Linked DNA regions of Homo sapiens: regions 1, 2, 3, 4, 5 and 6 are each reported to be linked to region 7. Evidence: microRNA targets listed by miRTarBase, many of them from high-throughput screens and not tested one by one. Region 7 holds a microRNA gene; each other region holds the end of a gene's coding sequence. Distances are from middle to middle.
Evidence for each region. The annotated mature microRNA hsa-miR-2355-5p reads AUCCCCAGAUACAAUGGACAA and lies in region 7 at 2,597-2,617, opposite strand. An mRNA with a match to its seed (bases 2 to 7 or 8) in the 3' UTR can be bound and repressed. Matches are read on the target gene's strand: a 7mer-m8 pairs with bases 2 to 8, a 7mer-A1 pairs with bases 2 to 7 and ends in A, and an 8mer does both.

Region 1: the mRNA of CACNA1A is a reported target of hsa-miR-2355-5p. Seed matches in the 3' UTR shown: 7mer-A1 at 581-587.
Region 2: miRTarBase lists PTGR2 as a target of hsa-miR-2355-5p. The part of its 3' UTR that is shown has no 7-base or 8-base seed match.
Region 3: miRTarBase lists ZNF649 as a target of hsa-miR-2355-5p. Seed matches in the 3' UTR shown: 7mer-m8 at 988-994.
Region 4: miRTarBase lists ANKRD36 as a target of hsa-miR-2355-5p. The part of its 3' UTR that is shown has no 7-base or 8-base seed match.
Region 5: the mRNA of VASP is a reported target of hsa-miR-2355-5p. Seed matches in the 3' UTR shown: 7mer-m8 at 508-514 and 7mer-m8 at 579-585.
Region 6: miRTarBase lists ZFP30 as a target of hsa-miR-2355-5p. The part of its 3' UTR that is shown has no 7-base or 8-base seed match.

Annotation. Positions count from the first base shown.
Region 1 is chr19:13,203,487-13,207,564 of GRCh38, reverse strand. CACNA1A (calcium voltage-gated channel subunit alpha1 A) reads left to right here. Exons shown (of 47, transcript NM_001127222.2): 47 at 1-1,123. The coding sequence ends at 252. Among named protein-coding and RNA genes, the nearest start is that of IER2, 55 kb to the right of the region's middle.
Region 2 is chr14:73,883,619-73,887,618 of GRCh38, forward strand. PTGR2 (prostaglandin reductase 2) reads left to right here. Exons shown (of 10, transcript NM_001146154.2): 10 at 483-2,108. The coding sequence ends at 559. ZNF410 (zinc finger protein 410) reads left to right here and starts at 3,241. Exons shown (of 12, transcript NM_021188.3): 1 at 3,241-3,297. RefSeq lists enhancers at 1,490-1,599, 3,231-3,300 and a silencer at 2,901-3,180.
Region 3 is chr19:51,887,327-51,891,404 of GRCh38, reverse strand. ZNF649 (zinc finger protein 649) reads left to right here. Exons shown (of 5, transcript NM_023074.4): 5 at 1-2,170. The coding sequence ends at 787. It overlaps ZNF577 (zinc finger protein 577), which reads left to right and starts at 3,454. Exons shown (of 6, transcript NM_001370449.1): 1 at 3,454-4,078. It overlaps ZNF649-AS1 (ZNF649 antisense RNA 1), which reads right to left and starts at 3,380. Exons shown (of 3, transcript NR_110733.1): 1 at 3,279-3,380. RefSeq lists an enhancer at 3,330-4,078.
Region 4 is chr2:97,249,397-97,253,474 of GRCh38, forward strand. ANKRD36 (ankyrin repeat domain 36) reads left to right here. Exons shown (of 76, transcript NM_001354587.1): 74 at 156-249; 75 at 748-777. The coding sequence ends at 771. Among named protein-coding and RNA genes, the nearest start is that of ANKRD36, 140 kb to the left of the region's middle.
Region 5 is chr19:45,525,861-45,529,938 of GRCh38, forward strand. It overlaps VASP (vasodilator stimulated phosphoprotein), which reads left to right. Exons shown (of 13, transcript NM_003370.4): 12 at 86-143; 13 at 280-1,123. The coding sequence ends at 317. It also overlaps a transcript of OPA3 not described here. Among named protein-coding and RNA genes, the nearest start is that of VASP, 20 kb to the left of the region's middle.
Region 6 is chr19:37,631,702-37,635,779 of GRCh38, forward strand. It overlaps ZFP30 (ZFP30 zinc finger protein), which reads right to left. Exons shown (of 6, transcript NM_001320669.3): 6 at 1-4,078. The coding sequence ends at 3,280. Among named protein-coding and RNA genes, the nearest start is that of ZFP30, 22 kb to the right of the region's middle.
Region 7 is chr2:207,107,447-207,111,524 of GRCh38, forward strand. MIR2355 (microRNA 2355) reads right to left here and starts at 2,627; the gene lies at 2,541-2,627. The region is part of intron 2 of KLF7 (KLF transcription factor 7); the gene reads right to left.

The sequences.
Region 1 (4,078 bases), not on the chromosome of region 7:
GGGGGCGGCGAGGAGGCCATGGCCGGGGCCTACGACGCGCCACCCCCCGTACGACACGCGTCCTCGGGCGCCACCGGGCGCTCGCCCAGGACTCCCCGGGCCTCGGGCCCGGCCTGCGCCTCGCCTTCTCGGCACGGCCGGCGACTCCCCAACGGCTACTACCCGGCGCACGGACTGGCCAGGCCCCGCGGGCCGGGCTCCAGGAAGGGCCTGCACGAACCCTACAGCGAGAGTGACGATGATTGGTGCTAAGCCCGGGCGAGGTGGCGCCCGCCCGGCCCCCCACGCACCCCACGCACACACCCCACCCGAGGAGCCGCGCAGAGGCCGCGGGGGCCCAGCACAGAGGGCCCGGGAGAGGGCCAGCCGGGAGACCCCAGACTCTGGAGAGGCCAGGGCTGGGCCACAAGGGTGTCCCGCAGAGACCCTCGGCCAAAAGAGACCCTCCTGGGCAGCCACGGCGCCCCCCAACCAGCCCCGATCCCCCCACCCACGACAGGGGCTCTCGGGTGGGAGGCAGGGAGCAGACAAACCACACAGCCAAGGGATTTGAATTAACTCAGCCATTTTTGGAGAACTTTGGGGAACATGAAAAAAAAAAAAAAAAAAAAAAAAAAAAACATTTTTAAAAGAAAAAACGGGGAGAAAAAAATAGCTTCTATTGATGAGTTTTATCATCTCAATTGAATCTTTCCTTTCCCTGATGAAGACAGCTGGTGGCCGAGTGCGGCAAAGAAGCCAGAAGGAACCAGAATCCCAGTGCCCTACACCCACCACCAGACACACTCACACCCACACACGTTCTCAGACACACACAAGAGTGCTTGCCGGTTATACCAAACCCTACTATTACTGCCTGCAGAAATCAATTTAAAAAAATAATAATAACAATAAACAATTTTAAAAAGGACAAAAAAATTAATGATTGAGAAAAGAGGCATTTTTTTCTGACATTTGGTCCTGCTTGAAACAACAAAAGAAGAAGAAAAACCCACCATCACCACCGATTCCTTTGCTTCTTTTTTCCTTTTTTCCTACCTTGTTTGAAAACCGTGGGCTTGGGACTGTGAATTATTGCATGACATTCAAAAAGAAAAAAAAAATAAAAAAAAGTTGAATCAAAGGGCTTTTGGATAGGAGTGGTCTTTGTCCCTTGGCTAGGTGCTGCCTGGGTGGGTCTCTCTTGGGGAATCATACAAAGAGGCACTTCTTTGTTAGCTCCTAGAAGCACTGTTTGAAAGCGACAAGGAGGCCGGGCATCATGCACGCCTGTAATCCCAGCACTTTGGGAGGCTAAGGCAGATGGATCACTTGAGGTCAGGAGTTCGAGACCAGCCCGACCAACATGGCAAAACCTCATCTCTACTAAAAATACAAAAAAAATTAGCCATGCGTGGTTGCACAAACTGTAATCCCAGCTACTCCGGAGGCTGAGGCATGAGAATCACCTGAGCCTGAGAGGCGGAGGTTAGCAGTGAGCCAAGATCCCACCACTGCACTCCAGCCTGAGTGACGGAATGAGACTCTTGTCTCAAAATAAAAAAAAAAAAGGCAGGGCGCGGTGGCTCACGCCTATAATCCCAGCACTTTGGGAGGCCGAGGTGGGTGGATCACATGAGGTCAGGAGTTCACAACCAGCCTGGCCAACATAGTGAAACGCCGTCTTTACTACAAATACAAAAATTAGCCACGCGTGGTGGTGGGTGCCTGTAATCCCAGCTACTCGGGAAGCTGAGGCAGGAGAATTGCTTGAACCCAGGAGGCGGAGGTTGCAGTGAACCAAGATCGTGCCACTGCACTCCAACCTGGGTGACAGAGCAAGACTCCATCTTAGATAATTAATAATAATAATTTGGTCTCGTGGACACCAACCCCCGCCCCCACGAAGTGTTTCAGCCATCCCCAGAGTCCAATACCCCTTTGAGAGCTTCTGTTCTCACAACAGTACCTGACCCATAGCAAGCTACTATTGACTATCACCATTACTACTGTAGCATTAAGGCAAACATTTTGAACAGGTCTTGTTCCAGACAACAGGCCCTGCTTGAGCTTACCTTGGGTAAGAAATCTGCAGACTCCAGATAGCAAGACAGGTGTAAGTCCTTCTAAAATAATGGTAAGCCAAATGTGGTGGCACACACCTGTAGTCCCAGCTGTTCAGGAGGCTGAGGCAGGAGGATCACTTGAGCCCACGAGGTCAAGACCAGCTATGATCACACCTGTGAATAACCATTGCATTCCAGCCTGGGTGACGTAGAAAGATCCCATCTCTAAAAAAATTAAAAGTAAAAATAAATAAATAAAATAATGGCATCTAGGAAAAGATCAGTCCAACGAGAAGTCAAAGTTTTGAGGTCGAGTGCGGTGTCTGACTCTTGTAATCTCAACACTTTGGGAGAATCACTTGAGGCCAGTAGTTCAAGACCAGCCTGGGCAACATAGCAAGACGCTGTCTCTAAAAAAAAAAGTTTGTTTTTTTTAAGGCTGGGTACAGAGGCTCACGCCTGTAATCCCAGCACTTTGGGAGGCCAAGGTGAGCAGATCACCAAGTCAGGAGTTTGAGACCAGCCTGGCCAACATAGTGAAACCCTGTCTCTACTAAAAATAAAAAAATTAGCCAGGTGTGGTGGTGCATGCCTATATTCCCAGATACTTGGCAGGCTGAGGCAGGAAAATCGCTTGAACCTGGGAGGCAGAGGTTGCAGTGAGCTGAGATTGCGTCACTGCACTGCAGCCTGGGCGACAGAGTGAGACTACGTCTCAAAAAAAAAAAAAAAAAAAAATGGAATGGAAGGGAGGGAGGGAGGGGTTTAACTTTCTAACCAGGCAATCTGGCAACCACCACAGGCTTCTAAACAAGCTGCCCATCCATTGCAGAGCTGGCCTCTGGTCCCCCTCCCATGGTGCTGGGGTTGAGTGTGTCCAGGAGCCACTGGAGTAAGCCAGGGTTTGTGCAATTCCCTCTGCTGTCAATGAGGCTGCAGCCATCTGTCCTCCCAGGAATGAAGTTCACTACCGAAGCCCCCCATGAGCCCTGAACTCAAAGGCCAAGTCTATGCCCGAGTGCCAAGAGGTAGACCCAAGGCCTCCACAGTGCACATCATCAGGCTAGAGTGTTAGTTGCCCAGGAGACACAGGGTGGGAAGATCAGGGGATGAGGAAGAGGGGCGGAGCTTGGCCTAGTCCCCAGTCTCACATACTCTCAGGCCATTGCTTGAGCCTCATCACCTGGAAGGTTGGAAGGGCATGATTGTCATAGAAATGCCCTGAGGTGACCGGGCGCGGTGGCTCAAGCCTGTAATCCCAGCACTTTGGGAGGCCGAGGCGGGCAGATCATGAGGTCAGGAGATCAAGACCATCCTGGCTAACACGGTGAAACCCCGTCTCTGCTAAAAATACAAAAAATCAGCCGGGCATAGTGGCAGGCGCCTGTAGTCCCAGCTACTCAGGAGGCTGAGGCAGGAGAATGGCGTGAACCCGGGAGGCAGAGCCTGCAGTGAGCCGAGATCATGCCACTGCACTCCAGCCTGGGCAACAGAGCGAGACTCAAGAAAAAAAAGAAAAAGAAATGCCCTGAGGTGCAAAAGCCCAGGCATTGGCCGGGCGCGGTGTCTCACGCCTGTAACCCCAGCACTTTGGGAGGCCAAGGTGGGTGGACTGCTTGAGCTCAGGAGTTCGAGACCAGCCTGGGCAACATGGCAAGACCTTGTCTCTACTAAAAATAAAAAAAAGCAGAGTGTAGTGGTACATGCCTGTGGTCCCAGCTACTCGAGAGGCTGAGGCAGGAGGATCACTTGAGCCCAGGAGTTCGAGACCAGCCTGGGCAACATGGTGAAACCCCATTCCTACAAAAAATACAAAAATTGGCCAGGCGTGGTGGCTCACGCCTGTAATCCCAGCACTTTGGGAGGCCGAGGTGGGCGGATCACCTGAGGTCGGGAGTTCGAGAACAGCCTGGCCAACATGGAAAAACCCCATCTCTACTAAAAATGCAAAATTAGCCGGGCGTAGTGGCGCATGCCTATAATCCCAGCTACTCGGGAGGCTGAGGCAGGAGAATCACTTGAACCTGGGAGGT
Region 2 (4,000 bases), not on the chromosome of region 7:
GGGACTACAGGCACACACCACCACTCCCAGCTGATTTTTGTATTTTTAGTAGAGATGGGGTTTCACCATGTTGGTCAGGCTGGTCTTAAACTCCTGACTTCAAGTGATCCACCCACCTTGGCCTCCCAAAGTGCTGGGATTACAGTCGTGAGGCCCCATGCCCGGCCTTCACTCACATTTTATTCCCATTTTTTTTTGCCTCTAGTCTTCAGATACTGTAAACAATGAACATTGATGTGCATACCAGTTAGATACCAATTAAATCTTTCCAGTATGGGCAAAACATTTTTTTAAGATGTTAATTGGGTTAGTTTGTGTGTAACTTTTTACTTGAGATTTCTTTTCATGACCATTTTCTTCTATGCTTAATATTCAAAATCATTGAAAAAGTTATTTAACATAATTTTATATGTTGTACCTTTTGGAAACAAGTATGATAGTGACATTTATCTTTTCAGATAACCTACTTTCTCTTTTTCCAGCTGCATTCCAGTCCATGATGACAGGAGGTAACATTGGAAAGCAGATAGTTTGCATTTCAGAAGAAATCTCTTTGTAATTGCTGTAAATGTCATCAAGGCAATCATAGATTTCTTTTCCATTTTGCATATTTTCAAAGATATGTTAAAAAATCCTTAGACTATACATAGCTCTTGATTTAAATGTGATCATAGGTGTTATTTTTAGTTGCATAGGGTATTTGATACAATCATTAATGGATCATACACAATAGGTTTTTAAAAATTAATAACTTTTAGTAATTACTTTTATTAATTTAAAATAGAACGCTTGAGAGGCACTTTGTAAAGATTTGTTAAACTGGAAACGTTTTACATGATCTGATACAACCATTAATGAATCATACACAATAGGTTTTTTAAAATTAATATTAATAACTTTTATTAATTTAAAATAGAATGCTTAAAATAAAATAGAATGCTTGAGAGGCACTGAGTAAAGATTTGTTGAACTGGAAATGTTTTACATGATTCTTAAACTGAAACTTGGTGTAAAAATAGAATTGAGATGGCCTTTTTTTCACATTGTAGACTGAAAAGAGACTTAATGGTATGATGTGTACATAGGGACTGGGGGCAGGATTGGGGGTTTCGGAGCTTGTGTAACAGTTTTTGGGATAGGAGACCAGCGGTTTTGGGTTGGGATTAGTATGGGAAGATAAATAACTTAGGTTGGTTAAGTTGACAAGATTTACTCCAGAGGATCATCTCTTTGTATTTGCCAAATAATTTACTGTATAGCCTAAAAACTCCATATATATTGAGAAAAGCATATGTTTATTTTAGGTTAGCAGGCACATACTGTCAAGTTGTAAAGATTGAGAGGGCAAACAGATGTAAACATCACTTGTAGGTGATTAAAAAGATTGACAGCCGGGCCTGATGTCTCAAGCCTGTAATCCTAGCACTTTGGGAGGCAGAGGCGGGCAGATCACTTGAGGTCAGGAGTTCAAGACCAGCCTGGCCAACACGGTGAAACCCCATCTCTCTAAAAATACAAAAATTAGCTGGGCGTGGTGGCACACGCCTGTAATCCCAGCTACTCAGGAGGCTGAGGCTGGAGAATCATTTGAACCTGGGAGGGGGAGGTTGCCGTGAGCTGAGCTTGCACCATTGCACTCCAGCCTGGGCGACAAGAGTGAAATTCCATCTCAAAAAACAAAAACAGATTGACAACAAAGACAGTTTCAGAAAATGACAGGACTGGGCAAATTAACAAATGTTTGTAAACATGAATGTTCAGGAACTACTGATGTACCTCAAAAGTTTGTTTTATTAATTGTACTCAACCCTCGCAGAACAGTAAAACTGAAGATTATTGTTTCTGAATGTTTTGGCTTATGATTGTCTACACACTGCCAATATACTTTTGTATGCAACATTTGTAATAAGTAGATTCAAACTGTGTTGGTAATCAGCCTCCCCAGTTTTCGTGAGTGGCCCTTTTTTGTTACTTTTCCTGGACCATTTCATCGCCTGAGGGGGTTTCACTTTTCTCTGTATGTTGCTAACTCCCAAATCTCCATCTGTATTTCTGACCTCTTTCTTGAGCACTGGACCTTTACCTCCAAGTAAATATCCTCAACTCTGGATTGCATCTTATACTCTGCTTTTTTCTTTTCTTTTCTTTTTTGAGATGGAGTCTTGCTCAGTCGCCCGGCGTGCAGCGGCACGATCTCGGCTCACTGCAACCTCCGCCTCCCGGGTTCAAGCGATTCTCCTGCCTCAGCCTCCCGAGTAGCTAGGATTACAGGCGCGTGCCACCACGCCCGGCTAATTTTTGTGTTTTTAGTAGAGACGGGTTTTCACGGCGTTACCCAGGATGGTCTCGATCTCCTGACCTCGTGATCCGCCCACCTTAGCCTCCCAAAGTGCTGGGATTAAAGGCGTGAGCCACGGAGTCCGGCCTACTCTGCTTTTCTAAAGTGGAATTATCTTCCTCTGAAATGTTTCTCCTTTATTTTAAATCACCATTAGTAATTTGTGTACCCAAACCTGTCATCAAGGCTTATCTTTAACCTTGAAAATGCCTTTTTAAAGAGAACTCCTTTAATTCCCACGGTTGAGTCTCTCATTCTTCCGCACGCAAATATTTTAAAATAAGTAATTTCAAGAAGTCAGTCAAACTCACAAAGCTTTAACAAGGTGGCATCCAGCTTGGAAGTCAAGTGTTCAAGCCCGCAGTCGGGACATCCAAGAGCTCTTTACATCCTAATTACAACACGGAACCCAGACTCACTGCATACCCCGTCCCGTATATAATGCAAAACTTGATTCTGCAAGTTCCTTTCTCGGGCGGTGAAACTTCGAAGGTCCTCTCCATGGAGACCTTTGATAAATGTTTAAGCAGTGATCTTTTCTTTCGCGTTTGCCTCCATTGCAACGCCTCCGCTGATGGGAAAAACTACTCCCTCCGCTACTGCGGGGTGGCAGTGACGTCAACGAATTAGCTGACCTGTTTTTTCGGGCTTCGCGGACATAGGAGTCCCGAAGGCCGAGAGTGAGTGAGTGAGTGGGAGCGGGGCGGCTGCGGCTCCTCCTGTCCGGGGCGGAGCCCTGCGTCGCGGGCCTGGGGAGGCCCCGCCAGCACCCTTGACGTCTGGGTCCCGAGCAGTGCGGCAGCCACACGACACTGAGGCGAGCGAGTGGGTGTGTGCGTGGGGGGTCAGCCAAACTTCCTGTCCCGCGCTCGAGCTGCTTCCGGCGGGAGCCGGAAGACGCTGTGTGTGGACGGAATTCGGGACCGACTGACGGCCGGCCGGCTTCCCGGAACTGGAAGGTGAGCTCCGAGGTGGGCCTGGCCACCCCTCCTCGGTTAGGTAGTACCCGAGAGGGCGGGGGCCAGTACCGGCTACTTGGGGCCTGGGGCCGAGTTCGCCCCGAGAGAGGAAACCGCCCTCCTTGGGCATCCCTCCTGGATCTGGCGGGCCCGGGAGCGGCCAGTCTGAAGCCCTGCGGCTTTGGCCCTTCCCCTCGCGGGTTTTTAGGGGCGATGTTCTTGCTCCTTTGCTTGGTTTTGGGGGTAGGGATATAGGAACAGACTGTCCTGAGAAAGCCAGAGTCAGCGAGTCCCCGGGGCGGGGGCTCTTGGACTGCACCCGCAGCCGGGGCCTGCCTACGGACCTTGGGGCCTTATTTCTGAGGCCTTTGTGGTGTGGGGTAGAGGATGCCAGGAGGCCTTGCCCTGAATGTTTCAGTCCAGAGCTACCCTCTCCTTTCATACCACTTACTTTCTGGGTTTGGAAAAGGGACAGCTGCCTACTCGGCTGGGCTGGGTCGCCCGTTTCTCCTTTGCCTGTCAGTTCGGGGGGCAGGAGTGTGTGGATTGTTTACGGCCTTCATACATTTCGTGTCGAATTTATTTTCTGAAGTTTCTCAAGATAATCCAATTTATTAAAGTTTATCCCACTTGATCATGAGGCTCAGAAATGCATTTAGGCACCATTTGGAAGTTAAATATTATTAACTTGGGACTTAAGAAT
Region 3 (4,078 bases), not on the chromosome of region 7:
CAAGAGGTACAGGCTCACTGAACACGAGAGAGCTCACAAAGGAGAGAAACCATACGGGTGCAGTGAATGTGGGAAAGCCTTCCCCAGGAAATCTGAGCTTACTGAACATCAAAGGATTCACACGGGAATTAAGCCCCATCAATGCAGCGAATGTGGGAGAGCTTTCTCCAGAAAATCACTACTCGTTGTACATCAGCGAACTCATACAGGAGAGAAGCCTCATACATGCAGTGAATGTGGAAAAGGCTTCATTCAGAAGGGCAATCTCAACATACATCAACGAACTCACACTGGAGAGAAACCTTATGGATGCATTGACTGTGGCAAGGCCTTCAGCCAGAAGTCTTGCCTTGTAGCACATCAGAGATATCATACAGGAAAGACTCCCTTTGTATGTCCTGAATGTGGGCAACCCTGTTCACAGAAGTCAGGACTCATTAGACATCAGAAAATTCACTCAGGAGAGAAACCCTATAAATGCAGTGACTGTGGGAAAGCCTTCCTTACAAAGACAATGCTCATTGTACATCACAGAACTCACACGGGAGAGAGACCCTATGGCTGTGATGAGTGTGAGAAAGCTTACTTCTATATGTCTTGCCTTGTTAAACATAAGAGAATACACTCAAGGGAGAAACGGGGGGATTCAGTGAAGGTGGAAAATCCTTCCACAGCAAGTCACAGCTTAAGTCCTAGTGAACATGTGCAGGGGAAAAGCCCTGTTAATATGGTAACTGTGGCAATGGTGGCAGGGCAGTGTGAGTTTGCCCACATCCTGCATTCATGATAAACAGTTTGCTGTTTGATCATATAGCCTCCAGCGGAATGCTGAGTTTGTCATGTCCCATGGGCCTTTGGCTCCCTGCACTAATATGTATAGTAGGGTTTACAAGATATGAAATATATTTTACTTTTTTATATCTTATAAACCTCACTACCCCTCCCACAATATTGTTTTTCATTTACTATCTTGATCATAGAGTTTGGCTGGGGAGGGGGGCAGTTTTAGAGGCTTCCACTTGGTGTTCCTCAGAATGATATCTCTTACTCCGGGGGCCAAGGTAGGGGTTAGCTTTTGTTCTCTTTGTAGTTTAGATTGTATCTCTTGCCTTGTTCAAGTTCACAAATCTTTTTGTGTATACACATATGTACATGAAAATGATGTTCATGCTTTTTATTATTTTACCCTTCATTATTTCATTTTTTATAGTTCTCATAGCTATGTCTTTCAGTTCACTAATCTTTTTTCCACAGTGTTTAATCTGTCATTAATCCCATCCAAAGTATGTTTTCTCTCAGAAATTGTAATTTTTAACCTCTAATAATTTGACATGGGTTTTTCCCTGTTATATCTTTCATATCTTTATTTATCATGGTTTTACTTTTAACCTATTTATGCTTTCATATTTAAAGTGGGTGTTTAGTGGGCAACATACAGTTGGGCCTTCCTTTTTTATCCAGTTAACAATCTCTGTCTTTTTACTGGGGTATTTAGATCATTTACGTTCAATGTATTGATGTTTTTAGGTTTAAATTACTAACTTACTATTTGTTGTTTATTCTATGTCTTCTTTGTTCTCCTTTTCTTCTTTTTCTGCTTTCCCTTAGAGTAGCTGAGTGTGTTTATATTACATATTGTCTCCTTTGTTGGCTTATTAACTGTAAATCCTTGTCATTTGATTCCTTGAGATTTTATAGCATACATCATTGTGAGGGATTGCATATTTATGTCCTCTCCAAATTTACATGTTGAAGTCCTAATCCCTAAGGGATGGCATTAGGAAGTGTGACCTTTGGAAGGTAATTACATCTTGAAAGTGGAACCCTCATGATGAGATTATGTGTCTTATGAGACAACACAGAAGAGAGTTTGTTTTCTCTTTCTCTGCTCTTTGCCATGTGAAGACAGAATGAGATGACCATGCATAAACCAGGAAATGGACTCTCACTGGACACTAGACCTGCCAACACCTTGATTGTGTTTTAGAGTCCAGTTCTAGAGACTCCTCAGCCTCTGGAACGTGAGAAATGAATGTTTGTTAAGGCAGTCAGTCAGTCTATGGTGTATTTTTTCTAGTAGCCTGAACTGACTGAAAGAAAATCATGAACTTATCATTCTAACTTCAAGGACATTATATCACTTACTGTATAATAAAATAATCTTACAGTAGTATATCTCTATTTCCTGTGACCAGATCAGTGTCAGTGAAGAGATTGTCTTCTAGATGCTACTGGAATACATATTTGAGGTATGGGTAATCTTGATTTTACATGATAAATTCATTCTAGCATTCCAAACTCCATTTATCTTTGGGTACTTTATAATATATGAGGAAATTTCTGGCATTTAAACTTCATTTAGTGTAGGCAAATTTTGAGTCCAAGTTTCAGTCAACCAGCCAAGTCAACAGTTAGCACCACTCAATTTAGCTCACACACTGAAATTGCCAGTAGAATGTAATCTCCATGAATGAGAGTCTTTGTGCCTGAATTTCCAACTGTTGTATTCCCAGCACGCACAACAGTGTTTGACACATTAGGCATTTTATAAACATTCGCTGGATAAATGAGTGAATGATCAATCCCTTTAAAGGTTCTCTGAGGCTGGTTATAAAATTATAGGGAGCAGGTTTGGTGCTAGAATTCATCAGTTAATTGATCAGCTGAGTTTCAGTATTGAACAGAATCATCTCCCCTTCAGAGTTTTGATTTCAAGTTGCTCCCACCTTCCTGGATGTAAAGGCTTGTTCTGCCTTTGGCTTTTCCAGGGTGAGAGAGCCCTGTTTTCGTGTTGGTTCCCCACTTTGTCAACTGCTGATCAACTGTGTTCTCCATTCTCCACACCAATTATAACCAAAGCTTTAACACGCGGTTGTTTTATCCATTCTATGACTGACTCCTTCCTCTGAGGCTACATCTGATGTAGATGTAAAGATACTTCTTAGGCAGTTCTCAAAGGCTGCTTTCTCCAGCCAGATGCATCCTCAGGAGTAATAACCCCTCCGATTGTTGCTCAGGTCCCTCCCTCTTGAAATTCCTGTAAGACTGCCGCGCCACATGGTTTCTTTCCATTCTTCTTAGGATCAAAGTGCCTAAATGTCTGTGACCATCTCTACCCATCCTGTAGACAGATCAGGGCAGGCTTGAGCCTTTGAGAAACTAAGCAGTTTATGTAGCGCCCCTGGCTAATGTTGCAAAGCCAAGATCTAGCAGTTCACGTGGACTGGAAAAAGGGTGAAATGGGTCGTTTTCAATTGCTTTTCATCGTCAGAACCTACCTGTCTTAAGGCGCGAAAAGAGGGACTCCGCCTGCTCTACGGCAGTAGGGTTGAAAATGGCTGCTCCCAGCAAGCGTCCCCTGGGCGCAGACATATTGCATCATAAAGGGACGGCTGGTGCCGTATTCCGTGTCTCCGGAAAGACGCAGTATGGCCCTCGCCGGCCGCCATCCCCGAAACTTGCGAGTGTCGCGTCTGCAGTGTGTGGGGTTCGCGGGGCGGCGGGTAGAGGCGAGTGTTTAGAGACTTCGGGTCCCTGACTCGCCTCCAGCAGTGGAGACAGGTCATCGGTCTGGTCTGCGTGGGCTTCTGGGAATGTTTCAGGGGCAGGGAGAGCGCGCTTTTTTTTTTCTGTTGTTCGCTAGCGCGTGAGGTCCGTGTTGCGGGGAGCTCTCGGGGAGTCCTCGCTCGGAGTTCGTTTCGCAGTCGTGTTGGAGTTCCCAGAGTCTGGGAGCCCATGGTCTCCGCATTGGAACCAGTGCTTGGGAGGTCTTCGTTGCACAGTAGCGCTAGGGCGTCGTGGTGGGGAAGCGAATCGTGTCAGTGTTGGAGACTGCTCTGGGCAGTTCGTGTTCATTGCTTATCACATGCGTACTTAAAAAGGGGTCTGCTGGTCCCCTTGCTTCCCTGCTGCTGTATATTCTGTAGAAAATGGGTTTTCAGGTTCATTGCGACCCAAGTAATAACATCCCCATCATTTTAAATACTCCTCCAGAAAATAACTCTGGTTTAGTGTATTTCATGTTTAATGTTGGGATCAGGTGTCTAGGTATTGGTATAATTTTATTCGTCTTTAATAA
Region 4 (4,078 bases), 110 Mb from region 7:
CCAAAACACAGGTAGAAAATGACACAGTAGCCCAATCGTCTACTTTTGTGATTGCTAAGAATTTGTGTAATTATACCTTCAGAAGTTTGTTTAGAATTTACATGATTTAAAAAAAATTACGTGTGAGAGTAATTATTTTAAAATGCACATTTTAGGCTTGAAGTAGAACATGTGATGATGAGAAAAATTATTAAAAAACAGGATGACCAAATTGAGCGGCTTGAGAAAATCCTGCAGCATTCAAGTTTGGTAAGCTGATCTCTTAATTTCTGTCATACTGAAAAGGAATTTTATTTTTCCAGTAGGATGGGTTAAATATCCCTTGTCCAAAATGCTTGGGACCAAAAGTAGATTTTTTTCAGATTTTGGAATATTTGTATATACCTAATGAAATATCTTGCGGATGGTACCTGAGTCTAAACATGAAATTCATTTGTGTTTCATATATACCTTATGCACATAGCCTGAAGGTAATTCTCTACAATGTTTTACAGTAATTTTTTGCAGGTAAGAAAGTTTTTACTGTTTTCCCCAGAGCCTGTCACATGAGGTCAGGTGTGGAACGTTGCAGTTGTGGTGTCATGTCCGTGCTCAAAAAGTTTCAGATTGTAGAGCATTTTGGATTTCAGATTTTTAGATTAGGGATGATCAATCTACAGTACAGATGCTCCTTGACTTACAGTGGGTTTACATGATAATGTCTCTTGTTTGACTGAAACATTATAAGTAATATTTGATTTATTTCAGATGCTGCAGGTGTTTGAGAGCTAGATGAAGGTATGTTGCCAAAATTTATGAATTAAATTCAAATCATTGATTTCTGAAATAAACTCTAAGTAGTGAACGGTATTCCCTCTCAATTGCTTGGTTAATAAATGCTACATTAAATATTTTTTCTTACACACATCTAGTGAAAGATGTGAAAACATAAACATTCATAGTGAAGGGTATACTTATGCTTTGTTAATTCATCATGTTTCATAGCTTTAAAAAAATCGCAAGAAATCTGTGTATCCCTTTTTTTCTGGCCCTACACTTTTCTTCTGCCACCCCTATAGACTATCAGCCTGCACACTGAAACTGTTCTCACAAAACAAAGGCATTATCAACTTCTCAAGGTTAAGGTAGTGATTTAAGGCTAACAGACCCCACACTCATGTGATAATAATTAGTTAAGCAATTACAGGTCACAAGCAGTCACTTGACCAGTGACATTTTAAATCTCTAGTCATTGACTTTGTCATTGGTTTACTTTTGCCCCTGGGAAAAGTTGAAAATTCCTTAGCATGGAATCAAAACTCTCACATCAGTGTGGTTCTTGTCAAGTTATTCAGCCTTATCTTTCGCCACTTACCATACTCTACACCTTTGTTCTAGCATCCAGCCAAACTAGACTACATGGAGCTCCACAGTGATCGTCTTCACCTCCAGCTGTTTGCATTTACTTCTTCCCTCTATCCTACATGTGTTTTCCTTCCCCTTCAGATATCAACCTATGAATTGCCTCTACCAAAAAGCCTACAATATTGACACAAACCTGGGCTAGTATCCCTTCTATGTCTTCCAATAAGTGCTGTCTTATGCTTGTCATTGTATGTATGACTCTGTATGGGAATTGCCTGTTTGTTTTTTCAGATTATAGCATACAGTTGTTGAGGGGCGGACCGTATCATCTTTATCTTGTAATTCCAGTGCTTGTCCTAGTACCTTAGCACATGGTTGCTGAATACATGAACGAAGAGTGAGAAACCAGAAGCTCTGATACTTAACTGCCATGATAATGAATTCGGTGTGCAACTATGGGCAAATTATATTTAATAGTAATTGCATATTGTACATATTTTTCATTCTTATTAACACTGATAAGCTTTTCAGCATATACTGACTTTCTCTTAGTTAACTGTGAAATCATTTAGATAAAGAATATAATTCTTTTTCATTCTAACTTCTGAATTTAAATCTGAATCCTCTATAGCAGGGGTCCCCAACTCCCAGGCCACACACAGTTCCATGACCTGTTAGGAAGCAGGCTGCACAGCAGGAGGTGAGTGGCAGGCAAGCGAGTGAAGCTTCATCTGTATTTCCAGCCACTCCCTGTTGCTCACATTATCACCTGAGCTCTGCCTCCTGTCAGATCAGCAAAGCCATTAGATTCTCACAGGAGTGAAAATCCTACTGTGAACTGCTCGTTCAAGGGATCTAGGTCACATGCTCCTTATGAGACTCTAATGCCTGATGATATGTCATTGTCTCCTATCTCTTCACGATGGGACCATCTAGTTACAGAAAAACAAGCTCAGGACTCCCATTGATTCTCCATTATGATGAGTTGTGTAATTATTTCATTATGTATTACAATGTAGTCATAATAGGAATAAAGTGCACAATAGATGTAATACGCTTGAATCACCATCCTGAAACCATCCCCCAAACCCCCATCTGTGGAAAAATTATCTTTCACAAAACTGCTGCCTGGTGCCAAAAAGGCTGGGGACTGCTGCTCTATAGCTTCTGCACTAGAATCTACTAATGAGTAAAATTTAAATCAATAACTAGTTTTAAAAGCATAACAAGAATATGTGCTGTCTGGCTGCAGTGGCTCATGCCTGTATTCTCAGCACTTTGGGAGGCCAGTGCAGGTGGATCACTTGAGGTCAGGAGTTCAAGACCAGCCTGGCCAATATGGTGAAATCCTGTCTCTACTAAAAATACAAAAATTAGCTGGGTGTGGTGGTGCATGCCTGTAGTCTCAGCTACTCGGGAGGCTGAGGTGGGAGAATCACTTGAACCCGGGAGGCAGAGGTTTCAGTGAGCCAAGATCGTGCCACTGCACTCCAGCCTGAGCAACAGAGTGACTCCATCTCAAATGCAAAACAAAACAGAAAGAATACATGCTGACGAAAAAAATCTAAGACAATAAAATTGTATTACTAGGCTGTTAACATGATATTTTGTTTCCCGTTAAATGTGTGACATGCAAAAGTATTTATTAAATGAAAATATTTTTTATCTTTTATGTCTGATGAAAATTTATATCGTGTTTTAAATGATGTTTCTTGGCCTCTTTAACTTTTTATTTTTTTATTATTTTTTTTTTGAGACGGAGTCTGGCTCTGTCACCCAGGCTGCAGTGCAGTGGCGAGATCTTGGCTCACTGCAAGCTCCGCCTTCTGGGTTCACGCGGTTCTCCTGCCTCAACCTCCCGAGTAGCTGCGACTACAGGTGCCCAGCTAGTTTTTTTTTGTATTTTTAGTAGAGATGGAGTTTCTCCCTGTTAGCCAGGATGGTCTCCATCTCCTGACCTTGTGATCTGCCCACCTCGGCCACCCAAAGTGCTGGGATTACAGGTGTGAGCCACTGCACCGAGCCTGAAAATCTTACTACCTAAATAACTTCCCACTCCACTCACACCCACAATCTTTCTATAATCCACATTCTCTCCTGAGACAAGAGCTTGGGAAGTTCCGTCTTGCTGAGGGAACTTTATATTGTTCAGGAATTCTTTAATAAGGTTTTACATAGTTGGGGAAACCAGGGAAAAGCAGGTTTGTCACTGCTTTGCTGAGGAGCAGACTCACGTGCCTTGGAAGAATTTAGTAAACCTTCAATAGATGGCCTAAGATACTAACAGGGGCCATCTCATTAAGCTACACAGTTATTTATAAATGAAAGTATAATCTAGAACTTACATGTCAAAGTCTTCCACTAGAAAGATGGCAATATTTGACTAAAACTGCAAAGTTTGTCCCAGTTGACAAAACTCTAATCAAGCCCCTGCCCTTCTCATTCTGTTTTTCCTTTTAAACTTTTTCTTATATTTTAATTTTTCATTTGACAAATGCATATTTCCTCTTTATACCATGCTTCCAAGTGTCACTCTGATACATACCTTCAATGAGCAGACACAGGATTGTGGAGTTTGTTGTGGACACTCATCCCATGAATAGGGAGACTCCGATAACCTGAACAGACGGCTCTAGAAAAGAAAGGAAACTTTCTTTTCCTTCCATACAGAGCTTCCCCCCATTATTTCAGTGTACACAAACCAACATCAGTTCTTTAACACAAAAATAAAAAT
Region 5 (4,078 bases), not on the chromosome of region 7:
TCCTTCTCAAAAAATAAAAGAAGGGGGATTCATTCCTGCAAGTCCCGGTACCCCCTCCTGATTAGTTTTACCCCATTAATTTTAGGAGCTTCTGGAAGAGGTGAAGAAGGAATTGCAGAAAGTGAAAGAGGAAATCATTGAAGGTGAGGTGGTTTGCTTTGGTTTTGTTCTTAAACATTTACTTATTTTGGAGGCATCATGTCCCTGGGCAAGAGCCCTGTTTTGGAAGGGAGGAGGCAGAGACTCTGCCCCTGACCTCTGCTCCTTGTTTCCTTCCAGCCTTCGTCCAGGAGCTGAGGAAGCGGGGTTCTCCCTGACCACAGGGACCCAGAAGACCCGCTTCTCCTTTCCGCACACCCGGCCTGTCACCCTGCTTTCCCTGCCTCTACTTGACTTGGAATTGGCTGAAGACTACACAGGAATGCATCGTTCCCACTCCCCATCCCACTTGGAAAACTCCAAGGGGGTGTGGCTTCCCTGCTCACACCCACACTGGCTGCTGATTGGCTGGGGAGGCCCCCGCCCTTTTCTCCCTTTGGTCCTTCCCCTCTGCCATCCCCTTGGGGCCGGTCCCTCTGCTGGGGATGCACCAATGAACCCCACAGGAAGGGGGAAGGAAGGAGGGAATTTCACATTCCCTTGTTCTAGATTCACTTTAACGCTTAATGCCTTCAAAGTTTTGGTTTTTTTAAGAAAAAAAAATATATATATATTTGGGTTTTGGGGGAAAAGGGAAATTTTTTTTTCTCTTTGGTTTTGATAAAATGGGATGTGGGAGTTTTTAAATGCTATAGCCCTGGGCTTGCCCCATTTGGGGCAGCTATTTAAGGGGAGGGGATGTCTCACCGGGCTGGGGGTGAGATATCCCCCCACCCCAGGGACTCCCCTTCCCTCTGGCTCCTTCCCCTTTTCTATGAGGAAATAAGATGCTGTAACTTTTTGGAACCTCAGTTTTTTGATTTTTTATTTGGGTAGGTTTTGGGGTCCAGGCCATTTTTTTTACCCCTTGGAGGAAATAAGATGAGGGAGAAAGGAGAAGGGGAGGAAACTTCTCCCCTCCCACCTTCACCTTTAGCTTCTTGAAAATGGGCCCCTGCAGAATAAATCTGCCAGTTTTTATAAATGCTAAGATCTCTGGAGTGATTTGAAGGCCTGTTCTGATGGGGATGGAGGTGTGCTCGGCCCCCGGTGCCCCTCCAGGAAGATTTGGTCCTCTGCTGAGAACCCCTGCCTCCTCCCAGGAATCCACCTTCCCTTCATCTTCCTTCCCACCCTGCATATTGCGCCTGCTCACTCATCCTCAGGCCCGCAGCCAGGATGATCTCTGCCCCCTCCAGCCTCCCTCCCCATGCCCCTTAGGAGGCCACTTCCTCCCCATCCCACCCTGCCCTTCACCACCCTAGGGGAGGCCAGAAGCAGCCTCACTTTGTGTAGCCTTGGGCAAGTCCATTTGCTTACCTCAGGCCTCAGTTTCTGATTTGGGAAAGGGCTCATAAGATGATTCTCTGCCCCCACTCTACCACTCTCCCAGCTTCTTTCCTCTTTTTTTTTTTTTTTTTTTTTAATGAGTTGGAGTCTTGCTCTTTCACCCAGTCTGGAGTGTAGTGGCAGGATCACAGCTCACTGCAGCCTTGAACTCCTGGGCTCAAGGGATCCTCCTGCCTCAGCCTCCCAAGTAGCTGGAACTACAGGCGTTTGGTATGACGCCTAGCTAATATTTTCATTTTTCGTAGAGATGCGGTCTTGCTGTGTTGCCTAGGTTGGTCTCTAACTCCTGGCCTCCAGCAGTCCTCCTGCTTTGGCCTCTTAAAGTGCTGGAATTACAGGCGTGAGCCACTGTGTCCGGCCTTCTTTCCTAATTTCAATGACATTTTGCAGACGCACATTATGGTTCTCAGACACGTTCTTAAGATCTTTACCCCAGAGCTCCTTTAATTAGAAAACGCTGACAGTCGATTTATAAAGTAGCATTCAGAGTCACAGAGCTCATCCACGCCCCCTTCAGTTGTCGGGTGGGTAGGTCATATGGCCTGGTGGAATACCCCGCTTGGACAGGGGGACCTCTGGGCTGAGGGACAGGTAGTCCCCCTGGAGGAGGCCTTTGCGTGAAGGAGGGCGGAGGAGGACCTGGACCAGTCCAAAGGCAGGAAGGAAGGGCGATCCCTGCGTACCGTGAGGGGCAGATTTGGAGGGAAGTTGGGCGAACTGACGATGACTTAGGTAGTAAAGGGACAGGCCGGTCCCTAGCAAAGGCAACTGAAGAGGACAGCGAGGGAGGACCGGATAAAAGGACAGTAGCAGTAGGTCCAGGACTGGGGACTGGTGACCAAGTGACTGAGCCTGAAAGCCAGAATGGACTAGCCCTGGTCAAGACCGGTTTTTCCTCCCAAAAGGCCACGTCCTGCTGGAACAGACCACAGAATGCCGGGCTGGGAGGCGTTTCCCTGGAAGACCCAGCATAGCCATGCCAGTGGGGTGCGCCATAGGTGGAAGAAGAGGGGGGTTATGTTGGATCGATCCACTCAGGGAGGGGAGGATGTCAATGACAGGTACTAAGATGGATTAAGGTCAGGAGCCGCAGGGTGGTGACTCATTGGAGCTAACGCAGTCCAGGATTCACCCCCACCTTTCCCCCTAAGACTGAGGTAGATGGAAGGGGGCGGGTCGGGAAGTCCGTAGGAACTTTGTGCATCTTTACAATGGTCTGTACCAATGAGGAGGAGGTAGGTGGTGTTCGGTGCAAAGGATGAGCGTCCTAGGGGAAGGGTCCACTCAGGTGAGTGAGGGTGCGGGTGACAGAATGAGAGGTGGCTAAATCCGGGTGCAGAATTTTGTTTTGCCAAAAGAGGTGGACGTCCTGCTGGCCTACCTAGCGGTAGGGAGGTGGGGTCTGATAAAAGACGCTGTCTTTCCAAAGTGCTCAACAAATGCGCTGGCAGGGGCGGGGTGGGATAGGGCGGGGTCCTTCTTGGAACGTTCCACCTGCAGGAGGCGGAGAGTCCCAGTGGAAGGTACCACTGGGCAGGTTAGTAGGGAGGTTCGATCAGCTCCAGCCCAGGATCTCTCCGGCGCCCCCGAAGGACTGGGTGGTGTCAGCTGGGCCGGTCCAGGATGGGACAGTGCGGAGAATAGGCCAAGACAGAGACTTCGCAGTCCAGACAGCAGTCACCTCCAAGACCAGGGCCCCGAGACCTCCTATTTCTCGGACGCCGGCGCAACTGGGGGTGCAGGCGGCGGGTCTCGGAGGCAGAGGTGGGCTCGCACCTCCTGCAGCTGAGCGCGCAGCTCCTCCAGGGCGAGCTGCGTCGACGTCGCCTGCACCTGCGCCTGCAACTCCTCGAGCGCCAGCCCCAAGTGGCCCACCTCGCCCCGCAGCGCCTCCCTGGCAACACGTCGCTCCTTTTCCTTGCGGCGCTGCTGCAACTGGTGGCGCCAATACTCCAGCATCAGGCAGCTGCAGGCGGTGATGAAGATGATGCCCTCGCCCAGCAGCTCCGCGCCCAGCTCGGCGGCTGCACCCTCGTTCAGCGGCTTGATGGCAGCGGCATTGAAACCCATGATGCGCATTTTGGTCCGCATCTCCAGCCAGTGGTACACTGCAGGAAAAGACAGGAGTCAGGGGTCTTTTGCAGGGCAGCCTCCTATAAGCCCCGACCCTCTGTGCTTCGATGTCCCCGTTGTAGCAATGGGGATGTGGTCACCACAATCGGACGCGTGCTGGCGGGGACGCCTTAACGAAGACAAGTGCAGGCCTCACACCCAGAATCCTCTAGGGAAAACTTCCTTAACTAATGACTTACTCATGTGAAGGTGGAGTGTCAGCTTTTGCATCGTTATAAACACAGAAGATGCTGATGCTCTTTTTTTTTCTTTAATTTTTCTTTTTTTGAGCCAGGGTTTCGCTCTATCGTCCAGGCTGGAGTGCAGTGCCGAAATCACAGCTTACTGCAGCCTCGAACTCCTGGGCTCAAGCGATCCTCCTCCCGCCTCAGCCTCCAGAGTAGCTGGGACAACGTGTGCGCGCCATCATGCCTGGCTAATTTTTTAATTTTTTGTAGAAATGGGGGCTCCTTGCGTT
Region 6 (4,078 bases), not on the chromosome of region 7:
ACAATAAGCATGAATTGAGATGATACTGGGCCAGAATCGTATCTCTTTTACTATCATTATGATGTTCTGAAGGTAGAATGCCTAGAATCTAAATATATAATTAAAGCTGGATGGATCTGGTCCAAGTTATTCCACATAAATGATTTTCTATTCTAAACTGTTGGATATAATTTCCCATAGAAATTAGAATTACCAGATTTCTCTTCATACGGAAAATGTCTAGATTTTCGTTTTGCCAGCCCTCCTCACCTAGTTCTTATAATCAGTTTTAGGTTAGTCTTGTAGAATAGTATGTTGGAAAAATTTAGCAATTACCAATTCTTCAAAGATTTTACTTGTAAAAAATTAGGTTCTCGGAGTCTCTCTGAGACCACTCTGGCTCAGGAGAGTAGGATTTTTTTTTTTTAAAGTTAGATTCTAAATGTATTCTTTTAGAAAGCGTATCTTCTAACCGTCTTAATTTTTCATTTGTTTGTTGGTCTACTCAGGCTCTCTTCATTCAGCATGTGAAGTCAATTTTAGTAATTTTTACCATAAAATAATTCTGGATTTTCAATATTTTAAAATACATGTATAGTGTGTGTATAAATATAAATATATATACCTACACACTATACACACACACATTACATATATGTAGTATAGCAACTTATAACTTTAAAAATCCATAGCTGTCACTTTTATCATTCATATAGCTGTAGCTGTGTAATCTTTCATATTTCTGTGATCAAAACTGCAAAGGTCTTGACTATATTGGTATCTTTTAAAGAAACACACACAAAAAAACCAAGTCTACTTTTTATTGTTTATGCCAGCGCTGACAATAGAAATACGTGAGCTACATATATAAATTTTCCTATAACAATTTTAAAAACAAAAAAGTGTTATTCATTTTAATGTATTTTATTTGAACCAATATATCTAAAATATTATTTCAATATGTACTCAATATGAAAAATTGAGATACTTAACTTTTTTAAAATAACTAAGTCTTCAGAATCTTGTGTTTTACAAAAAAACACCATTTGAATTTGGACTAGCCACATTTCAGTGCTCAATAACTCAATTTCAAGTGCTCAACAGGTTGCTAGTGACTACCATATATTAGTACAGGTCTAGTCCATTATTTCCCACATTTAGCAGTAGTAATTGCTTTCTTTTACTCATTCTTTAAACATATGAAGTGAGAGTCGGGCATGGTGGCTCACGCCTGTAATCCCAGCACCTTGGGAGGCCAAGGCAGGTGGATCACCTGAGGTCAGGAGTTGAGACCAGCTTGGCCAACATGGTGAAACCCCATCTCTACTAAAAATACAAAAATCAACCTGGTGTGGTGGCGGGCGCCTGTAATCCCAGCCACTCGGAAGTCTGAGGGAGGAGAATGGCTTGAACCCGGGAGGCAGAGCTTGCAGTGAGCCGAGACTGTGCCACTGCACGCCAGCCTGGGCGAAAGAGCGAGACTCCGTCTCAAAAAAAAAAAAAAAAAAGGTGCATACCATGGGTACTATAATATAGAGATAGAGAGGTCAACTAAATAAAATGTGGACCTACATTTTAACTTCCTGAATACATTATCGTCATTATAGTGTAATTAATATTCCAATCCCAATGTGTAGAGCTTTGGCAACATCCACAAGTTTTAATATGTAGAAATTTTCTTTTTTTCTTTGAGATAGAGTTTTGCTCTTGTTGCCCAGGCTGGAGTGCAATGGCGTGATCTCGGCTCACTGCAACCTCTGCCTCCTGGGTTCAAGTGATTCTCCTGTCTCAGCTGCCCGAGTAGCTGGGATTACAGGCGCATGTGACCACGCCTGGCTAATTTTTGTATTTTTAGTGGAGATGAGGTTTCACCATGATGGTCAGGCTGGTCTCGAACTCCTGACCTCATGATCTGCCCACCGGCCTCCCAAAGTGCTGGGATTACAGGCATGAGCCACCGGGCCCAGCCAGAAATTTTTTTTAAAATAATTCATTTTAAACTGGCTATAATTTCATGGATAATTTGATCTTTAAAAGAACATCATGGAAAATTTTAAATACACAAAAGTAGAATAGCAAAAACAAAACAAATAAAAACCATGTATCCAAGACTTAGGTTACCATCATTTTGCCAAACTTGTTATTCATCCTCATTTTTCTTTTGTATGAACAAAAGGACATTCCAGATATATCATCTCCTGTGTATAGACTTCAGAAATTATCTCTAACAAATACACTTTTACATAACCACAATGCTATTATCACACATAACAAAGTTTCTTAATATTATCTAATATTGTCAATATTCCATTCTCCCAATTATTGTTAAGTATCTCTTCTTTTACATGTTTGTTCAACTCATGATCTAAGTAAAAACCACTGTTTCATTGCATTTGACTGATGTCTCAAGTCTGTCAATACCTAGGAGTTCCACCTTATTTCTTAAAATGCCATTTTATTGGTTGGGAAACCAGGTGATTCCTCTTGTAGAATTACCCTTATTTTAGATTTAATTGCTCCTTTTTGTGTCATGTAATTTACTCTTCCATTCCTTGAATTTTCTCTAAACTGGGAGTTGGCTCTTGAGGCTTAAATTCAGGTTCAATATTTTTGGCAAGATGTGTATATCTTACTGTAGCACATTAGGAGGCACGTAATTTTTACTCTCTTGCTTTTTGTGAAGTTGAGATGATGAGTGGGTTCAGACGTTGTCAGTCTCATCTATTCACTATAAAGTTCACAACCTTCACTGAATGGTGTCAACCTGTACAGAGAATCATGCCTAGATCCATTATTTCATTATGTGTTACACAATAGTTTTTCTAATATAATTTTCTATTATTCTTTCTGCATTCATTAGCCTGGAATTTTCTAATAAAGAAGAACTTTACCTCCTTAACTTCTGGTTGCCCTGAAATACAGTTCCTACAGGAAATGCAGACTAAATGACTTTCCTTTCATTTACACATTTTCAGAATGAAGTGGTTCCCTAGCAACCTTCGTGTGTATATACACAGATGGAAGAATATGGAGATAATAATAGGTAAGATCAAAAGCTTTTCCACATTCAGTCCTGTAATAAAGTTCTTTTCTAGGATGAATTTCCTAAAGTTTAACATGGTTTCAAAGGTGATGAAAGGCTTCTATATGTTCATTAACATATTCTTTCCTTTAAATAAAACTTCCTATGCTTAGTTGTGAGCATGAAGCAAAAGGGATTCCCACGTTCAAAAACCTTTCCTCTAGAATGTACTTCCTATGCTCAACATAAAATTCGCAAAGGAAGAGTTCTAATAATTATTAAGTTACATTATGAATTCGCTGATGGTAAGTAAGATGTGAATGTTGTCTAAATGCCTTTTTACATTCCTTACATTTGTATGGTTTCTCACCAGAATGAATTCTCTGATGTTGAATCAGTGATGAATGAAGTCTAAAGGCCTTTCCACATTCCTTACAGTCATAGGGCTTTTCACCAGTATGAATACTTTGATGTTGGGTAAGTTGTGAAAGCAGTCTAAAAGTCTTCTCACATTCCTTACACTTAAAGGGTTTCTCACCAAAATGAATACTCTGATGTTGAGTAAGCTGTGAGAACAGCCTAAATGCCTTCCCACATTCCTTACATTCATAAGGTTTCTCTCCAATGTGAATACCCTGATGTGAAATAAGTTCTGAGTAACGACGAAAGAACTTCTGACATTCCTTACATTCATAGGGCTTTTCACCAGTATGTATTCTCTGATGGAGAGTTAGATGATAGCCACGACTGAAAGTCTTCCCACATTCCTTACAATCATAAGGCTTCTCACCAGTGTGAATTCTCTGATGGAGAGTAAGTTGCTGCCGCACTCTAAAGGCCTTTCCACACTCCTTACATTCATAGGGTTTTTCTCCAGTATGAAGTTTGTGATGTAGTCGAAGGCCTGTACTACACAGAAAGGCCTGACCACATTCCTTACACTCATAGCACTTCTCAGCAATGTTCAGTCTCTGATGTCGAGTAAGGTGTGCATACTGCCTAAAGGCCTTCCCACATTCTTTACATTCATAGGGTTTCTCACCCGTGTGAATCCTTTGATGGAGATTAAGTTGTCCT
Region 7 (4,078 bases):
ATTTGGGTAAATTAGCAAGCTTCTCCTCCATATGGAGCTGCGGCCGTAAATCACAAATATGAGTGTGTGTAAAATTATATAGCATAGGCCCAGTGTAATAATAAACACATTTATATTTTATAACTGCTGTTTTCTCCACCTTCAAGCCGCATCATTGCCTGGGCCCCAGAGGTTCCTAAGCACTCCCCACCGGCTCCTGTGTGCAGCCGTCTTGCTTTGTGTGCAATTTCCTTCCCCCTCGTCACAGACCGCTATCTGCCAAATGCCAGCCGGCTCTTCTTTGTGCTGCGGTGGGCAAGGAACCATACCAGCTCACAGTTCTCTCTGCAGCAGAACACAGACACAAATGAGCAGGTGACCTCTCAAACCGTGTCAAAACGGACCCTTGACCCAGAGACCTCAAAACTTCAGTGGGTTCGCTGTCTAAATCACCCAACTAAAAAGACCTATGTTTGCACAACGTGATTGTGTTTACACAAAGATTTAACGCCTCAATAGAGCAAAAGCTGTTCAGTTAATTTTAATTATTGCTTTACTCTTCTCGCAACAGATTTTTAAAAAAATGCTTAACGGTGAGCTTGTGGTAATTGATCCCACAAGCTTTGTACCTATGGTCCTTGTAGCTCATACAATGACAGGAGTGGGAAGGATGTATGAAAAGTTTTCCCTGGCTGCAAAGGATTCTTTCTGGCTTTGCTCATTAACTATTCTTTTTGGATAAGGTGCACACCAGGAAAACCACAAAAACAAAAATAAAAACAAAAACAAAAACTTTAACATCTAACCATGAGAGGGGGGAGAAAGATACACAGGTGGATTTGAAAGCATTCTAAATGCTTAGTAGCCAATTATCAGCAAGGAAAAGGCTATTATCAAATTGGGTTGGGGGCCCCGCCAATTCTAACGACTTATTAAGATTATTTCCACGGCAGGTAGAATGAAATAAAAAGGGGAAGTTTGAAAATACAAAGATGTACAGGAACACAGGATCACACACAAAAATATCTACAGACAAACAATCCTCAAAAGAGTGGAGCCCTCAGGGGTAATGTGTGTTATTCCTTCAGCCTTCCAGGAATTTGTCTTTTGGTGTTAATACCTTTTCTTTCCTCAGATCTCTGGATATAATATAAATGCCCATCACTCTGAGGTTCCTGTAGATCCTTTTGGCAGAATGCTAGAAAGCAGCTATTCTTCTTCACTGTGTGCTTTTCTGAATTCAGAGGAGAGACTGCTGCACATAACAAGCAAAATCATAACCTGAGTTTGGGATCTTTGCCAATGAATAGATTTACAATTCCTGTATTTACCAAGGGTTTTTATTCTTACGACTTCTAACCCATTATAAATATCCTCAACTGGGCAAAAACAAAGATAAAATAAAATTATCCTGAATTCCACACTTATCATACAAACAAAAATAAAGGCACATAAATCATTTCTTCAACCTCACCTAGCAAAGCTCTGGTGTAACTGAGAGGAGCATACAACTCATACACCAAGATCCACCCATCCATAGATTCCTTTGAATTCTTTAAGGCATCTCCATTTGGGTTTTCCAGCTTAGTAATAAAGAGGATTGCTAAGATGCATTCTTTCAAGGGGTTCAGAGAAAAGTTTCTATTTGCTATTTCTCATCAAGAATTATCTAAAATATGCAAATGCAGTAGTACTGAGATACCACTTCAAGAATCAATACCTTGCGTTTGTTTGCATCTTCAAAACCAGCTTTCTTTCTTAAAATAGGGGAAAACCAACTAAGATCAAGGATTCTTAAGTTCAACCAAAATAGACAGAATGTAGGAATATACAAGATAATCACTCAGTTTTCTTAGCTATTCTGAATTAGTAGTTATACTGAACAAGTAAAATAACAACAAATAGCCATTTATTTTTCTGAACCATAAACAAAACTGAATTCATTTATATTGTTTCAACTTAGGCCCCCAAAAGAAATAACTGATCTCTAAAGGAAAAACAGAGTAGGGCAGGCTCTGTGATGGTTCAGCAGTGAAATCTTTGAAAAATGATTCTTTCAGCCTCAGTTCCCTTATTTGTACAATGGGTATAATGAGAAGACTTACCTCATCGGTAAGTGAAGGTTAAATGGAAGGATGTATGTGAAACACTTGGCAACTGTAAAGATCAATACAAGTGATATTATTATTGCTTACTTGGGTAATGCACTAACATAGAAGCAGCCATTCCCAGGCTTGGTACCCAATTGCCTTCTTACTCCCAAAGCTGATCTGAGTAGGAACGCCTCAGCTTACCCTTTCTTTAGCACATCTGCTCTGGGAAGCTGACTAAGTAACCCACTGCATCTTCAGGCCATCAAGATAATATTACTAATTCCCTACTGGATCTAAAACTAAGGTCCGATAACAACTGTGATCCAAAACATGGCACTTAGCATGACCCCACAAGGCCAGCTCACTAATGGCAATCTCTTCAAGTGGCAAGGGATAAGCTAATACATGTAAAAGCCACAGATGTCACGTGCTCCCTACAGCCACATTCACATGTATGAGAGGAATAAAGTCAGCAGTATTATCTCCAAACAGCAAGGACAATGCCATACGATTATAATAGCATATTGTCCATTGTATCTGGGGATGACACGTCTGACAATGTTATTTTCTATGCACGTGAATGTAGCTGAAAGGGCCAATGCATAATTCACAGCTCCTGACAAAATGCAGACATAAAGTATGTGTCCATTAGATAAGGCAATTTAAATCCTTTTACCTGAAATAGCACCTTTCTCCCTAAGAACTCAGAAAGCTTCCAGTATGCTCCTCATGGTGCTGGTGCGAACCAGAACAGTGAATAGTAGGAAATGTACTGAGGCAGCAAATGCCAGCGCAATATACAGTTTTACCAATAAAAGTTTTATTTTCCCACGGAAAGCACGTCACTCTTATTTCTTCACTAACAGTTAATCTTCTTTTTGGTAACGAGGAAGCAACTGTTACATTTCAGCAAGGCCACTGTACCCAGGGGGAGAATGACAATACCATATGATGGTGTGGCTCTTCAGTGCGTGGTCAGCTAGGCCCATTTCCTGGCAAAGCACCTCCCTCCCACGTACCAGCCTGGCAGCTGATGTGATCAGACCTCTGCCTCAGCAAAATCTCAAATTATTACAGGTCAGGAGCCTTCTGCAAAAGGGGAGGGCATGAGGCTCAGGAAGAGTCACAATCACGAATCTTCAATCTAGAAGGTTAAGCATTTAGTGGAGGTAGGGAGATTTCTTTCTTACCATAAGGGGAAAAGCGGCACATCATCTAAATCCTGACAGAAATAATAAATAATGCAATATTTCCATTTAGTCAATATTGTTAAAGATCATAAAAGGGAAGAAGGCAAGACCTGGTGGGTAGGTCATCTTAAAAGGATTAGGAAACGTTTTGCAAGTGGATCAGAGCAACCTACAGAGAAGAAGACAGCTAAGGTTGCATTAGGCCAGGGTTTCTCAACCTTGGCACTGTTGACCCTTGGGCCCACATGATCCTTTGCTGTGGAAGTTGTCCTGGGCATTGTAGGATACTTAGCAGTATCCCTGCCCTCTACTTCCCAGATGCCAGTAGCATACCCCCAACCCCACATATGACCATGAAAAATGTCTCCAGACATTGCTAAATGTTCCCTGAGGGAAAAAATCTCCCCTGGTTGAGAACCACCACATTAGGCAACTAATGATCTCACATTTTGGGAGAGTGGCTGGACCAAAAGATTTGCTGTCACACATAATGGCCTCTTCAGACATTGACAGGATGTCCCGATACCCTCCTTGAACCATTGTGTGACTCTCCCATTCCTGCTATGCCCTTCTTAGCCTCAGAAGTTCTTAAAAGTTCAGGGAAGGCCCATCTGTGTGGAATGCTCTCCCAGTGCGCACAGGCCACATAAGGTTTTGAGCACAGGGTGTCCAGCTACAGGCTGAGAGGGGCTGAATCTGGCTCTGCTCCTCAAGCACAGGGAAGCTGCCCCACGCAAAGGGTACTTTTTCTAATTCACACAAAAGCATATTGTGGCTTAGCAGCAGCCCTGCTGGGGGACTAGCAGCCATCAGATT